Linked DNA regions of Homo sapiens: region 1 is linked to region 2. The links come from fine-mapping of genetic effects on gene expression. A gene starts in region 2. The other region holds a variant in brackets. All regions are shown on one strand. Distances are from middle to middle.

Region 1 (8,330 bases), 31 kb after region 2:
TCTCACTCGAGAAGCCACAGGCCACTTCCAGGAGTCCGAACCCTTCAGTCATATAGACCCAGAGGAGTCAGAGGAGACCAGGCTCTTGAATATCTTAGGACTTATCTTCAAAGGTAATCATTTTCCTTCTTCAGTCAATAAATAACACATGTCAACTGGTATTTACTGAGCATTAACTTTATGCCATCATTGGCCTGGTTAACAGAACCTGGTGCTGAAGAGCCCAGAGATGAATTGGCATTACTTTTGCTCTGGAATGGAAGCAGCCCACGGGCCTAAGATTGATAGTCACAGGGTGACTGTCCAGACCATAGCGGTCTTTAGGTATGGTTTTTGAGAAATTTAGATATTTTAGAGTAAGTTTTAATTTCATATCTTCACATTGTGAAAAGAGATATCCAGGGCCAGATGTCGTGGCTTATGCCTGTAATCCTAACACTTTGGGAGGCCAAGGCAGGAGGATTGCTTGAGCCCAGGAGTTGAAAATCAGCCTGAGCAACATGACGAAACCCCCATCTCTACAAGGGATACCAAAAAAAAATTAGCCAGGTGCGGTGGCACGCACCTGTAGTCCCAACTGCTCAGGAGCTGAAGTGAGAGAATCACCTTAGCCCGGGGAAGTTGAGGCTGCAGTGAGCGGTGATCATTGCCACTGCACAGCCTAGGCAACAGAGTGAGACCCCATCTCAAAAGAAAAGAAGAAGGAAAATAAATAAGTAAATATCCAGGAATGTTGACAGCTGTTGGATTCCCCTGTATCCCCTTGAACGAAACCATCCTGTACTTCTCTAACTCCTTAGGCCCAGCAGCTTCCACACAAGAAAAGAATCCCCGGGAGTCTACAGGAAACATGGTCACAGGACAGACTGTCTGTAAAAATAAACCCAATATGTCGGATCCTGAGGAATCCAGGGGAAATGATGAACTAGTGAAGCAGGAGATGCTGGTACAGTATCTGCAGGATGCCTACAGCTTCTCCCGGAAGATTACAGAGGCCATTGGCATCATCAGCAAGATGATGTATGAAAACACAACTACAGGTATGCCAGAGTCCCTTTCTATAAGGACAGCCTTGGGGTTCTTTTGGATTTTTTAATTTTTTAAATTTTTATTAACAATAGAGATGGGGCCTTCCTTTGTTGCTCAGGCTGGTCTCCAACTCCTGGGCTCAGGCAATTCTTCTGCGTCAGCCTCCCAAAGTGCTGGTATTACAGGTGTGAGCCACTGCACCCGGCCATGGATCTTGGAGTTCTTTTCCATATTTTATTGATATATCTATCTGCTCCTTTAAAAGGCAGGGGTTCTCGGCTGGGCGCGATGGCTCATGCCTGTAATCCCTACAAAACTGGGAGGCCAAAGCAGGAAGACAGGTTGAGGCCAGGAGTTCGAGAGCAGCCTGGGCAACATAGCAAGACCCCATCTCTACAAAGAAACAAAAACTAACTGGGCGTGATGGCACGCACCTGTAGTTCCAGCTACTCGGAAGGCTGGGCAGGAGGATTGCTTGAGCCCGGGAGTTTGAGGCTACAGTGAGCTGTGGTCATGCCACTGCACTCTAGCCGGAGCAACAGAATAAGAACCTGTGTCTTAAGAAAAGAAAAAAAAAAGGCAGGGGTTCTTTTTTTCTGTTTGCTTCCTCTAGCCACTTACAGCTTATACATTTTAATGCATATAGTATTTCATGATAAGGCATCATAGGAGGAGTCGACATTCTCAGGGAAAATGCGGAAGGCCTCCATTTGCATCTTGCTACATTCAGAAAGGTTCTGTCGTTAGGTATTGGGGGAGTTTTGTGAAGTAGATAGGTGACATTTGTACATGTTCTCTCAGTGGTGCAGGAGGTGATTGAATTCTTTGTGATGGTCTTCCAATTTGGGGTACCCCAGGCCCTGTTTGGGGTGCGCCGTATGCTGCCTCTCATCTGGTCTAAGGAGCCTGGTGTCCGGGAAGCCGTGCTTAATGCCTACCGCCAACTCTACCTCAACCCCAAAGGGGACTCTGCCAGGTATATGGGGTGCTTTTGCCTTTGCTGACTTTTCCAAGGTCAGCTTCTCACAGGACTTCCCTTGTCTCCTAAAGGAAGAGGTGCATTTCTCCAGGGGAGTTCCAGATCCATAGGCAGTCCATCATAGTGGGGCTTAGGGTGGGGCTCGGTTTCCAGGGAGAGCAGTTTTGTAGCACTGTGGTGGGATAGCCCTAATCACTGTTTGCCAAGTTCAGCTTCCCAATCTTATAGTGACCGCTGATCTCTGCTGTTCCCACAGAGCCAAGGCCCAGGCTTTGATTCAGAATCTCTCTCTGCTGCTAGTGGATGCCTCGGTTGGGACCATTCAGTGTCTTGAGGAAATTGTAAGGCTTCCTGCTTTCTCTTTCTTTATTCATTCAACAAGTATTTTGGTTGTTTTTTTTTTTTTTTTTGAGACGGAGTCATGCCCCATTGCCCAGGCTGGAGTGCAATGGCACAATCTTGGCTCACTGCAACCTCCGCCTCCCAGGTTCAAGCAATTCTCCTGCCTCAGCCTCCCGAGTAACTGGAATTACATGCATGTGCCACCATGCCCGACTAGTTTTTTGTATCTTTAGTAGAGACGGGGTTTCACCATGTTGGCCGAGCTGGTCTCGAACCCTTGACCTCGTGATCCACCCGCCTCAACCTCCCAGAGTGCTGGGATTACAGGCGTGAGCCAAAGCGCCCGGCAACAAGTATTATTGAGTTATTACTATGTATTTAGCAATTTACTTAGCTCCAGAAAGAAGTATAAGACTATTTGCTTTCATGTTCCCAACTTTAAAGGAACCAACAGTCTAGTTGGTAGTGAAAAACCACAGAACATTTTTAGAACAATGCAGCAGGTAGATAATAAAGTGCCAGAATGAGTTGTACGGGTAATGGTTGTCATAGCAATAATAACAACCTCACTTATATGGTATTGAATATATGACAGGCACTCACACGTTACTCACAGTAACTTGTTTAATCCTCACGACAGCCCTGTGAGGTAGCATTATCTGCATTTTACAATGAGAAATCTGAGGCACAGAGAAGTTACTGAACTTGGCTGGTTACAGCTAGTTAGTGGCAAAGTTTGAGATTCAAACTCAGGCAATAAGAGCTCTAGAAAACATACTCTTAACTTCTGTGTTCTACTGAGGGATACAGAGTAGGAAAGAGAGCGGTTTGGGGTAGAATGGTCAAGGAAGCTTCCTGAAGGTGGTAGGACTTAAGCTGGGTCTTGAAAGATGAGTAGGATTTAGAGAATCAGAGCAAGGAGGGAGGGCATTTCAAACAGAACCCAAGAAAGAGCACAGTTCACATTGTAGAACAAAGAAGACTGTGTTCTGGTTCAAATTATCTGGAAAAGACCAGGCGCGATGGCTCACGTCTGTAATCCCAGCACTTTGGGAGGCCAAGGCAGCAGATTACCTGAGGTCTGAGGTCAGGAGTTCGAGACCAGCC[T/C]GGTCAACATGGCGAAACCCCACCTTTACTAAAAATACAAAAAAATTAGCCAGGTGTGGTGGTGGGCACCTGTAGTCCCAGCTACTTGGGAGGCTGAGGCAGGACAGTTGCTTGAACCCAGGAGGTGGAGGTAGCAGTGAGCCGAGATTGCGCCACTGCACTCCAGCCTGGGCGACAGAGGGAGACTCTGTCTCAAAAAAAAAAAAAAAAAAAAAAATCTGGAAAAGATAATAAAGTTGTGAATGTAGGTTGGAACTAAACTGTGGAAGTCCCTGAATGACTTCAGGAGTCTAGGACTTTAACTGTGTTAGCCAGGCACCCAGCATTTTAGTGAGACATTCTGCTTTGTAGCATTTGCATTGCGGGCACAGAGAGTGGAGGTGGCGCTGGGAAGCGTGCTCCTGCCAGCCACATTTTTCTCCTCACTGGGGAAAAGAAAAGAGCCTGGTGGTGGTGATTGGCCATGATGTCATAGGTCAGTTACCGGCAAAAGCCCTACAAGAGGCAGGGGAGAGCACCTGCAAACTGGGGTGCAACAGAAGGGACGTGGGGAAGCAGAGGCTGAGGAGACCAACCCATGGGAAGGAAGGCCCGTGGAGGCTGCTGCAGTGGGCAGTAACGAGGGGCTGGACTTGAGGATTGGAGAAATCACTGCAGAATGGGCTTAATGGAAGACAAATTTTTAAAGGAAAAATAGTGACTGATTTGTAAAAAAATTAGATGACCGAAATTTTAAGCACATATTACTGATAGAGTGTTGATACCACTGGCAAAATGAAAAGGCAAGGAAGGATGATGGCTTCCATGTTGGACATGTTGAGTTTGTGGTAACGGCAAGAAAACCTGTTAGAAATCTCCAGACTTAGAACTATGGACCCACGTGGAACTCAAAAGGTCAGTTTCGATATGTCACTTGAATAAAATAGTTTTGAAGGCATGAGAGTAGAAAAGTAGAGAATGGAAAGCCTCTCAAGACCCTGCTGTACATTTTGAACCTCCTCTTTTCTTTTTCTCTTCCTAAGTATTACTTTTGTCTACTTCAGGTTCGCAATATCATCTTCAGAAAAGCAGACCAAAGATCAAGGAATTGTTCATTTTTGGCTTGAGCCCTTTTTCTTTTCTCTTTAGCTCTGTGAGTTTGTGCAGAAGGATGAGTTGAAACCAGCAGTGACCCAGCTGCTGTGGGAGCGGGCCACCGAGAAGGTCGCCTGCTGTCCTCTGGAGCGCTGTTCCTCTGTCATGCTTCTTGGCATGATGGCACGGTGAGGCTCAAATCTAGCAGGCAATGGGGTGGGAGAGCAAAGGAAGGTTCTGAGAGGGCTCCTTTTCCTTCAGTGACATTGTCACAGTGAGGCCCAACTGAGCTCTGCTGTGAGTTATAACGCCACCTAAATGGAAAAGCAAATAGTGAGAGGACCAGCCCTCCTGCCTAGTAGTAGTGGGATTCAGTAAAGCAACAGGACCCAAGAGGCTGGCCCTGCGGCAGAGCCACGCTATAGTGCTCCACGGCTCTAGACACCACATGAGGTGCTGGTACCTACCCCTATTGGCCCTTTCTCCCCCGATGAGTCCAATCCATGACTGCCTTTAACTCTGTGGCTTCCTTCCCCTAGAGGAAAGCCAGAAATTGTGGGAAGCAATTTAGACACACTGGTGAGCATAGGGCTGGATGAGAAGTTTCCACAGGACTACAGGCTGGCCCAGCAGGTGTGCCATGCCATTGCCAACATCTCGGACAGGAGAAAGGTATGTGGGGGTGGTTCCAAACTAAGGAGAGTGGAGATTCTCGTGTCCACCCTGTACACACACCCACGTTGTCTTGCTCTCCACAGCCTTCTCTGGGCAAACGTCACCCCCCCTTCCGGCTGCCTCAGGAACACAGGTTGTTTGAGCGACTGCGGGAGACAGTCACAAAAGGTGAGCTCTCAGGGAAGGCCTTGGGCAGAATTGGGCCCTTTGTTGCAGTAAACAACTTCTCCCTCCTCCTCTGCAGGCTTTGTCCACCCAGACCCACTCTGGATCCCATTCAAAGAGGTGGCAGTGACCCTCATTTACCAACTGGCAGAGGGCCCCGAAGTGATCTGTGCCCAGATATTGCAGGGCTGTGCAAAACAGGCCCTGGAGAAGCTAGAAGAGAAGAGAACCAGTCAGGAGGACCCGAGTAAGTGGGCAGGGGTTGACCCACTGCGGCAGCCAGCTTCTGTTCTCCCTGCAGGGCCAGGAGCCACTGCCACCACCACTATCTGCAACAACCCTTAGTGTACACTGTGTCGTTTTTGTCTAAGTTGAAGTTGGGCCAGTTCCCACCCCCAACTCTTACTACTTCACTAGTTTGAATAGCACGTGAGCAAGGGGAAGATCAGTAAAAATCGGATTCAGGTTTGATGGGACTTAAAAATGTCTCTTTGCCCCACCTTCCCTCTCCCTCTCCTCCAGAGGAGTCCCCCGCAATGCTCCCCACTTTCCTGTTGATGAACCTGCTGTCCCTGGCTGGGGATGTGGCTCTGCAGCAGCTGGTCCACTTGGAGCAGGCAGTGAGTGGAGAGCTCTGCCGGCGCCGAGTTCTCCGGGAAGAACAGGAGCACAAGACCAAAGATCCCAAGGAGAAGGTGTGTGAATGTCCTCAGCACTTCCCAGATTTATTTCATACCTCAGCTCAGAACTGAGCTGATCCCCTTCCGGCAATCTCTGCTCCTCTGCTATTACATGAAGCGAAGAGTTTCTGCCTCTCTGTGGCTACTACCGTAGGAAAGGTTCGTGTGAACAATGACGAAACTGTCAGTGATCACCCAGGAAGGAAAGATTTAGGTAAATGCAGAGTGTGGAGTTAGAGACCTCAGCATAAAACAGAGGCTTTGTGTCTGAGGCAGGGTTTGTTAGAACACGCACGTACCCGCCGGCCTTTTCCATCAGCTTCCATTGCTGGCCTGGCCCCGGATGGGGCCCTGTGTTCCCTCCACTAGAGGCAATGATGTCTTGCAGACAAATAAGACACAGAGCCTTGCAGCGCTGGAGAAAAGTCTGACCTCTGTGACTTTGAACCATTGTCTGGCGTGATCCATCTGTTTACCATATATAGGAAACGATGTCTTCCATGAGGAAGAGGTGCAGAAACACGCTTTGGCAACTTAAAACAAATGGGGACCTCATTGTTCCCCTGCTTAATTCAGGAATCCTTTCTCTTTACAGACACATTTGACAATTCTCTAAATGTTTTTGTAGAATTTGCCCTTCCTCACTTTGTTCATGCAAAACAAAGTATGGGCTGGAATCAAAAATGTTGTCTCTGCTTATCCATGATCCCCAATTTCATTCCCTTTAGAATACGAGCTCTGAGACCACCATGGAGGAGGAGCTGGGGCTGGTTGGGGCAACAGCAGATGACACAGAGGCAGAACTAATCCGTGGCATCTGCGAGATGGAACTGTTGGATGGTAAGAAAAATGGCTGCACTCAGCAGTTTCTTCCCAATTAAGATAACCTGTCCCAAACCTGCAGTTACTCTTCCAACAGGCAAACAGACACTGGCTGCCTTTGTTCCACTCTTGCTTAAAGTCTGTAACAACCCAGGCCTCTATAGCAACCCAGACCTCTCTGCAGCTGCTTCACTTGCCCTTGGCAAGTTCTGCATGATCAGGTAGGCCGTGGGGTTGGTACCCCCTTCTCAAGGAAGATGGGGATGAAATGGCTTCCCTAATGATCCTCTTCTTGCTCTTAGTGCCACTTTCTGCGACTCCCAGCTTCGTCTTCTGTTCACCATGCTGGAAAAGTCTCCACTTCCCATTGTCCGGTCTAACCTCATGGTTGCCACTGGGGATCTGGCCATCCGCTTTCCCAATCTGGTGGACCCCTGGACTCCTCATCTGTATGCTCGGTAAGAGACCCCTCACAACGTGGTGGCAGTTCCCAGGAGCCCCGGAGTCTGTTGAGAGTCAGTGTGAGAATCACCAGGGCTCTTCCCCTAGGCTTTGGCATCACCGCGAACATCTGCTTGATACTTGACCTGTACAGGCCCCTGGCTAAGAGTCACCCCAGTGGGACTGACACTTCTGGTTAGAAGCTTCACCTCTTTCCCCCACTCCAGCTTTCAACTCTAGACAGCTTTCTGACTGCTTCTGGAGTGGCAGAGCATGGGATAATTGATTCCTGCTGAGGGCCTTTTCTACCAGTGTTAGGGTGTAGCCCGGAGGTCTCGGTCCCCATGACCCGCAATTCCATTCCTAGTCTCCGGGACCCTGCTCAGCAAGTGCGGAAAACAGCGGGGCTGGTGATGACCCACCTGATCCTCAAGGACATGGTGAAGGTGAAGGGGCAGGTCAGCGAGATGGCGGTGCTGCTCATCGACCCCGAGCCTCAGATTGCTGCCCTGGCCAAGAACTTCTTCAATGAGCTCTCCCACAAGGTGAGAGGCAGAGAGGCACTGAGGGCTGGCTGCAGAGGGAATCTGTAGGTCACCTCATCTCCTTAACATGGCTCTCTCTGTCTTACAGGGCAACGCAATCTATAATCTCCTTCCAGATATCATCAGCCGCCTGTCAGACCCCGAGCTGGGGGTGGAGGAAGAGCCTTTCCACACCATCATGAAGTATTGCTCCCCGGGCCCTGGGGCACATTTTCCACATAGCACGGGCTTAGGAATCAGACACACCTGTATTTGAATTCCACCTCGGCTACTCTTTAGCTGTACAGCCTTCGGCAATAACTTAGCCTCTCTTTGTGCCTATTTCCTCTTCTTTTGAGGCTGATGATACTTAACCCTTAGTTCTTGAAAATATTAAATACGATAAAGTTCCTAACATGGTGGCAGACATACAGTAGCACTCACTCCCTAGCAGCTGCTCCTGTTAATTTCCATTCACAGTGAAAATTCCTG
Region 2 (8,330 bases):
GTCCACCATCTTGTAACTTTACATCCTTCAGACGTCTTTTTTTTTTTTTTTTTCTTTTTTTAAAGACAGAGTCTCCCTCTGTTGCCCAGGCTGAAGTGCATGGTGCAATCTCAGCTCACTGCAACCTCTCTGTCTCCCGGATTCAAGCGATTCTCCTGCCTCAGCCTCCCGAGTAGCTGGGATTACAGGCACACACCACTATACCTGGCTAATTTTTTTGTATTTTTAGTACAGACGAGGTTTCACCATGTTGGCCAGGATGGTCTTGATCTCCTGACCTCGTGATCCGCCCACCTAGGCCTTCCAAAGTGCTGGGATTACAGGTGTGAGCCACCGGACATCTTTTAAGTAGAATGAAGACTACTTAGAGGTAGGAACCAACCCTACCTTGGTGATTTTTGTTCCTCCAAATATCTTTGCACATAATAATTCAATATTTATTCAAAGAAAACGTTATATACTGTTTCATACCACAAACAAGATTGTTCTGTCCTTGAAAACAAAACCTTTTGTATCTTTGAATCAGGAAATATTCTATAAATGCCTATTGACCTATTAATTTCCTCTTCCCTAACAATCAGATACTCTACCAGGATATGTAGATATCTTCTTCAGGGCACCTTGCACTTAGCAGAGTCCCAAATATTTTATTTTCTCCACTCTAGCACCACCAAATCATGTAAAGTATACAGCCACTCACATTTCACATCAACTTCTCCATTCTTATGCATAGCTCCTTCCAGCCACCCCTCTGAAAACTGACTCTCCTAAACATTTCCGTAAGACCCAGGATCATGTTTTCATATATACCCATCAATCCATTTATCCAAAACCCACTTGTAATTTAACAAGTGCTTTTTATTTTTATTGAAGATGGGGTCTTGCTATGTTCCTAAGGCTGGCCTCCAACTCCTGGTTTCAAAGGATCCTCCCACCTCAGCCTGCAGAGTAGCTGGGATTATAAGTGTGCTCCAACCACCATGCCCCGCAACAAGTATTTATTAATCTAACTTCACTTTTATGGAGTTTTTGTTTTTTAAAATATAGAGATGGGGTCTTGCTATGTTGCCCAGGCTGGTCTTGAACTCCTGGCTTCAAGCAATCCTCATGCCTTGGCCTCCCAAAGTGTTGGGCTTACAGGTGTGAGCCACTGCACCCAGCCCTAACTTCACTTTTTTTTTTTTTTTTTTTTTGAGACAGTCTCACCCCAGTTGCTCAGGCTGGAATGCAGTGGCATGATCTCAGCTCACTGCAGCCTCAAACTCCTGGGCTCAGGTGATCTTCCCACCTCAGCCTCTTGTGTAGCTGGGACTGCAGGCACGCAGAACCATGAGTAGCTGGAACTACAGGCATGCAGAACCATGCCCAGCTAAGTTGTTTTTTTTTTTTTTTTGAGACAGAGTCTTGCTCTGTTGCTCAGGCTGGAGTGCAGTGGCACGATCTCGGCTCACTGCAAGCTCCACCTCCCAGGTTCAAGTGATTCTCCTGCCTCAGACACCTGAGTAGCTGGGACTACAGGTGTCCGCCACCACTCCTGGCTAATTTTTTTGTTTGTTTGTTTTTGTATTTTCAGTAGAGACAGGGCTGTGTTAGCCAGGATAGTCTCGATCTCCTGAGCTCGTGGTCCGCCCCCCTCCGCCTCCCAAGGTGCTGGGATTACAGGCAGGAGCCACCGCACCCAGCCACTTTATTTTTAGTAGAGACGGAGTTTCACCATGTCGCCCAGACCAGTCTCAAATTCCTGTCTCCAAGCAATCCTCCCACCTCAGCCTCCCAAAATGCTGGGATTACATGTGGGCACCATTCTGCCCAGCTGTAATTCTTAAAAATTATTATTAAAAAAGAACAAAACACATAGATGCCCTAGACTCAACTCAGCTCTACTGATCAATCTTTAGGGGTTAGGACTAGGCTTTTGAAATGTTAAAACACCCAGAAAACTGATGACCAGTCAGGCTTAGTATCCGCCATCTCTACCATTCATATGGTACTTAATGTTTCATATTTAAATGGAAAGGACACCTCACACTTTTTTGTTTTTCCTATAGTTCCTACTCAGAGAATATGCCTAATAAATATTTTATGAGAGTAGTACAGAAGTATGACTCCATTTTTCTCTTATATTTCATTTCAGTGTGGAAGGCTCTTTAGAAACACTATTAACATAACAGCATTATGTCAAAAAGCGCCAATAACATTCTCACCAACTTTTCTTTTTAAAGGAATTAGGTATAGCTAGACTGTAAAAGGCAAGTGGTGTGAAGCCCAAACCTAAGATCCTAAGATCTAGGATGAGTCAAGACTTCATAGTCTACATGAGTAGAGGCAGCATCTAGAGGAAAACAAAAGTATGTGGCTATCAAATTCCAAAGAAGCCCCATTTTATTACAGAGAAAATACAAAGCCGTTTCCTCACAGGGAAAAGTACAGTTTCCCTTCTCCAGGGTGACAGATGAGCCTTTTCCGAAGTTCTCAGCTTTCTCTTCTATCGAAACTTCCCATGTCGGTTAAAGTGTTTGTAGAGATAGCGGATGCGTTTATTAAGGTTGTGCAGGTCATCAGCGAACATTCTACTTCCAACCATTTTCCTCTTTCGGATACAACGTTGCAATTCATTCCCTTTCCAACCTCGAAGCCATATGGGCCCCCTGATCAGTTCTTTGGGGTGCTTTTCAAAGTTTCCTGTGTAATGTGAGAGAACACATTAGATCCAAGACAAGAGAACTCATCCTACACCAGCTAAGCTTTCAACCCACGGTTGCATCTTGCTGAGCAGCACCTATAGACAAGGAACATTACAGTACAGAACAATAGCACAGACTCTGGAGCCAGACTGCTTGGGGTTAAAATTCTGATGCTGCCATTTATTAACTTTGGAAAAACTGTTTATTTTTACTTATGAAGTAAAAATTATACGAGGGGACTCAGAACAGTGCCAAACACAATGTAAACAGCTACATAAGTGTTTGCTCTTACTATTGAGCACAGTACCACTCTCTACACAGGAGGAAAAGATAGTCGTTACAGCCTAATTGCCATTCTGAAATTGTGTACCACGTCGAAGGTCAAGTCTTACCCAGGATCCCGATGTTGTCATACACTCCGAACATGGCCCTTTTCTCGTTCCAACGATCAACCACTTTGGGGGGCGGGAGAGTGAGCCTTATACCGATCAATCTAGGCACACCTGGGGATGGGGAAGGGAGGGAATTAATCTGAGCCGCCTATTATACTACGAAGCAGTTATCGGGGTGCCTACATCAGCCACTTACCAAGAGAGAAGCTTCTGCACGCCAGAGGCACCCAGTCCCACAGGCGCCTACCTGCCCCGGATAAGAGGTTCCCTGCCATTTCTCTAGTCTCCCCCCTTCAACAGCACACCAAATAAGCCCAAGAAGATGACAGGAACCGTCCCCGCCAACTTCACACGAGTACTAAGGCGAAGACAGCCATCTTGGGCCTTACCCAGGCAGCTGTGGGCGCACCGCCCACCTACGCCCCATCCGCAACAGCCACGAGCCCCGCCCCCCGGGTTCCGGCAGGAGGGGCCTCTACCACCCTTCCCGCCTCAGTGCTTCCGGTCCGCCTGCCGGAAGTTTTGGAGCGCCGGACAAGCTGAGGTCCGCGACTCGTCGCTAAGATTCCCCAAAACTGAGATTTCAAGAAAATTCACCCTTTCCGCTTTCTTTGGCGTCCTTCAACCGTGAAGGAAATGAAGGTTGAGAACCTGGAACCCGCTTCCAATGACCAAGCCCTTTCTCTGTGCCTCACAACAGTCTTCCGCTGTAGCTGTTTTTATTACCCCTATTTTACTACTGGGGAGGAGATTTGAGGTCCTGAAAGTGAAGTGACTTGCTGGACGTCACTTAGCAGAGGAGATGGCGAAACCTGGATTAGAGGCGATGCCTTCTAACTCCCAGCGTGGACTTGCCTCCTTTCCTGGGGGTGACTGAATGCCCAGCCAGGGACGCGACGTCTCTGGCCAGCAGAAATACGGCCTCCTCCCCGCCGACTGGGCAAAGGGGGACCTTGCGGCCAAGGAGGGATTCGCAGGCGGGCCGGGGGTGGGAGCGGGGGCCGGAGCCGGAGCCTTGGCCCGCCCCCGGGCGGCGCTGTGATTGGCCGGCCGCTCCGGCGGGCGTCGCGATTGGCCGTCCTGCAGCCGTTGAGATTTGAACTCGGTATTTGTGGCTTTGCCCGCGCGTTGCCAGACTCAGAGGCGGCCCTTTGCCTCTGCCTGCCGGGGATTGGCCGGATTCTCCGCCGACTTGAAAACTGCCTTGCTAATTGGTGCGTGTTGTGCACGCGTGTTTTTTCCTTTTCATTTCAGCCTGACTGCCGGAATCAGAGCCGCGGGTGAGATCCCCAGGTAAGATGTGGTGTTGCAGGTCGTAAAAGAGTAGGAAAGTCGAGTACATGGCAGTGTGACCCAGTCTTGGGCAAAATACAATAGGCCTAGTAAGTATATCCCTGGGGCGCGATGTGTGAGAAACTGTAAGTCTGACAGATCCGCAACGGAAGTTGTTAAGCAAATCGCTTAACAGATCCGCAACGGAAGATGTTAAGCAAATCGCTTAACAGATCCGCAACGGAAGATGTTAAGCAAATCGCTTAACTTTCTTACTTCAATTTCCGCTCTGTAAACTCATTTGTATTATTATGCACCTCATGGGATTGAGGTTAGGATACTTAGATCAGATATGATACATGCAAACAGCCTAACAGACTTGGCACAGGATAAATAAATCATCATTGTTAATGCTCTTACCATTCTGGTGCAGGAAGCCCACTAGCCCATGCTGGGGCACTGTTTTGGCCTCAGACGAGATCAGACCATTCTCTCTATACTTAAGGAGCTTTGCACATAAAAATGGAAATAATAGTACTTTGCACATTAATATGCCACTTTATAGTTCTTTAAACACCTTCGTACTGCTTGATTTGTTTGATCATCAGAGCAACTTTGTGAAGTAATCAGAGTTTAGTAACCCTGTTTTTACAGATAAAGCCCAGAGGTTTAAGTGTCAAGACCAAGTGCCAAAGTCACTACTAGAATTAGTTTCTAGTCCAGGGTCAATCTCAGATCCCGTAAGATAATGTTACTAGCTTGCTATAAAACTAAAAACCATTATATATGTTGGGGGTGGGGAACTAACAAAACCAGATGATGTTACTAGCTTGCTATAAAACTAAAAGCCATTATATATGTTGGGGATGGGAAAGTAATAGAACCAGATACGAAGACAGGTCTTGAATATAGACCCTGACTTTTTCACTGTTTGGTTTCTAGCCCTGTGAGCCTGTAGGAGTAGAATGGCTCCCCAAATGTATGAGTTCCATCTGCCATTATCCCCAGAGGAGTTGTTGAAAAGTGGAGGGGTGAATCAGTATGTTGTGCAAGAGGTACTGTCCATCAAACATCTTCCACCACAGCTTAGAGGTAAGAGTCCATAGCTGTCACTGTACCTAGCTCTTTCAAAGGACCATCTCACATGGAATTGCTACATTGTCATTTCTGTTCCACTACACCAGGAAGCATCATAAGAGCAAGAAACATGTTTTTCCTATTTTGCTGTTTTATCCTAAAATTGCATGGGATGCATGACCCAAAGAGTACATTCATTAACTTCCTTTTCTGGATTAGTCAAAAACAGTCTTGGTGTATGTGATTACTCTTTGGGGAAAAGTTATTTTCCATCTTTACCCCTTACTGTGTGTCAAAATTAAGTCCTGGTGGATTTAAGAGTTATAGGAGTGGATCGCTTTTTCAGAATGTCTCGGACTTAACTCGACCTGTTTTTGGTAATACCTTTTTGGAGTCTTTTTGGATGTGCAATTATGGGGACAAAAACCCATAATATATATGTACCACTGCAACACTGAGCAATATATGTACAGTGCAGTCACCTACTGAAACCTGTAAATGATCAAAAGCACCTTTTGCATTACCAGAAAGACTTCATAATGTCCTTGTACTTGTTGGGAGCGGTCTTGTAGCAGTTAGCTTGCTTTGGAGAGGTATAGAGATTAAAGACTGGAGCCAGGCTGCCTGGATTTGAATCCTGGTTCTACCACTCTGACCTTAGACAAGTTACTTAATTGTCTCAGTGCCTTGGTTTCGTCATCTGTAAATATAGAGATAATAACCAATTCCTTTGTTATCACCTACAAGAAGAAGGGTTGGTTAATGCAGCAGCTCGACAATATGGTCCTAGCTTGTCTCCTCTTGGCTTTTCTTTCATGGTTGCTAGATTGCAACTTCTTTTTGTTTTTCTTTTTTTTTTTTTTTTGAGACAGGGTCTCACTCTGTTGCCCAGACTGGAGTGCAGTGATGCGATATCGGCTCACCACAACCTCTGCCTCCCCAGGCTCAAGCGATTCTCCTGCTTCAGCCTCCCAAGTAGCTAGGATTACAGGTGCACGCCACTACCACCTGGCTAATTTTTGTATTTTTAGTAGAGACGGGATTTCACCATGTTGGCCAGGCTGGTCTTGAACTCCTGACCTCACATGATCCACCCACCTTGGCCTCCCAAAGTGTTAGGATTATAGGCGTGAGCCACTGCACCAGTCTAGATGGCAGCTTCTTCCTCTAATGTCCAGAAGTGGAAAAAGGAATTTTCTTTTTGTACTTTTTATTCTTTATTTTATTTTGAAAGACAAGGTAAAGACTCTCTTGCCCAGGCTGGAGTCCAGTGGCATGATCACGGCTCACTGCAGCCTCAACTTCCCAGACTCAAGCAATCCTCTCACCTCAGCCTCCCAAGCAGCTGGGATCACAGACATGCACCACCATACCTGGCTAATTTTTAAATTTTCTGTAGAAACAGTGTCTCCCTATGTTGCCCAGGCTGGTCTCGAACTTCTGGGCTCAAGCAGTCTTCCCGCCTCAGCCTCCCAAAGTGCTGGGATTGCAGGCTGGAATGCAGTGGCCTGATCACAGCTCACTGCAGCCTCAATCTACCAGGCTCAAGCAGTCCTCCCACCTCAGCCTCCCAAGTAGCTGGGACCACAGACATGTACCAAAGTGCTGGGATTGTAGGCATGAGGCACCATGCTCGGCCAGACTTTTTTGTTAAAAACTAAAACACCTACACACATTAGCCTAGGCCTACACAGGGTCAAGGTCACCAAGAAGTCACTAGACGATGGGAATTTTTCAGCTGTATTATATTTTTATGACACCACTGTCGCATATGTGGTCTATTGTTTACCAAAATGTTACAGGGCACAGGACTGTACAGGTAAGAGAAATAGAATTACCCAGACTGGTTTAACTGATCAAGCTTATTACCTAGGAGCCTCCCTAAACTTGAGCATATCAACCATTTGGTAAGCAAGGAAGAAGGCAGAGTGTGGAGGTTGCCTAATGGATGGCAAACCAACAGTGTCCACAGGTATACTATTCTGTCCATATCATGTGGATATATGTGTCACCAATTGAACATGCTGCATACTATGACAAACTACTCTTCACTTATTATAATGATGCATCATTTTTTTAAATGGTCACCTTTTTTTTTTTAAGTTCTGGAGTACACGTACAGGATGTGCAAGTTTGTTACATAGGTAAACGTGCTGTGTTGGTTTGCTGCACCTATCAACCCATCACCTGGGTATTAAGCCCAGCATGTATTAGCTATTTTTTTCTTATGCTCCCCCTCCCCCCATTCCACCCTCTAACAGGCTCCATTGTGTTGTTCCCCTCCCTGTGTCCATGTGATCTCATTGTTCAGCTCCCACTTGTAAGTAAGAACATGCAGTGTTTGGTTTTCTGTTCTTGCATTAGTTTGCTGAGTCCCTGCAAAGGACATGATCTTGTTCCTGTCACTTTTTTGTTGTTGTTGTTGTTGAGACTGAGTCTCCTTCTGTCACCCAGGCTGGAGTGCAGTGGCGCAATCTCAGCTCACTGCAGCCTCCGCCTCCCGAGTTCAAGTGATTCTCCTACCTCAGCCTCCTAAGTAGCTGGGATTACAGGCAATGCCACCACGCCCGGCTAATTTTTGTATTTTTAGTTGAGACAGGGTTTCACCATGTTGGTCAGGCTGGTCTCCAACTCCTGACCTGATGATCCACCCGCCTCGACCTCCCAAAGTGCTGGGATTACAGGCGTGAGCCACCGCGCCCAGCCACTTTTTTTTTTTTTAAAGAGTCTTTTGTTTTTTGGAGACAAGGTCTCATTTTGTTGCCCAGGCTGGAGTGCAGTGGCTCCATCCGAGCTCACTGCAACCTCTCGGGCTCAGCCGCCCGAGTAGCTGGGACTACAGGCATGTGCCAACATGCACTGCTAATTTTGTGTTATTTGTAGCAACGAGGTTTTGCCATGTTGC

Evidence for each region. PIP is the estimated chance that this variant, and not a neighbour inherited with it, causes the effect.
Region 1: its variant is fine-mapped to the expression of NCAPD2 in whole blood (TOPMed, PIP above 0.99).

What each region holds. Positions count from the first base shown.
Region 1 is chr12:6,520,998-6,529,327 of GRCh38, forward strand. It overlaps NCAPD2 (non-SMC condensin I complex subunit D2), which reads left to right. Exons shown (of 32, transcript NM_014865.4): 14 at 1-113; 15 at 801-1,040; 16 at 1,831-2,005; 17 at 2,265-2,349; 18 at 4,586-4,719; 19 at 5,071-5,203; 20 at 5,290-5,374; 21 at 5,451-5,618; 22 at 5,894-6,066; 23 at 6,780-6,891; 24 at 6,971-7,094; 25 at 7,176-7,331; 26 at 7,682-7,859; 27 at 7,948-8,042. Among named protein-coding and RNA genes, the nearest start is that of GAPDH-DT, 9.2 kb to the right of the region's middle. The variant T/C (reference allele first, on the strand shown) is at 3,458.
Region 2 is chr12:6,489,786-6,498,115 of GRCh38, forward strand. NCAPD2 (non-SMC condensin I complex subunit D2) reads left to right here and starts at 4,317. Exons shown (of 32, transcript NM_014865.4): 1 at 4,317-4,369; 2 at 5,291-5,440. The coding sequence starts at 5,314. It overlaps MRPL51 (mitochondrial ribosomal protein L51), which reads right to left and starts at 3,477. Exons shown (of 3, transcript NM_016497.4): 1 at 3,273-3,477; 2 at 3,077-3,187; 3 at 2,101-2,682. The coding sequence starts at 3,351. The coding sequence ends at 2,486. RefSeq lists enhancers at 3,695-3,744, 3,912-4,509 and a silencer at 3,945-4,274.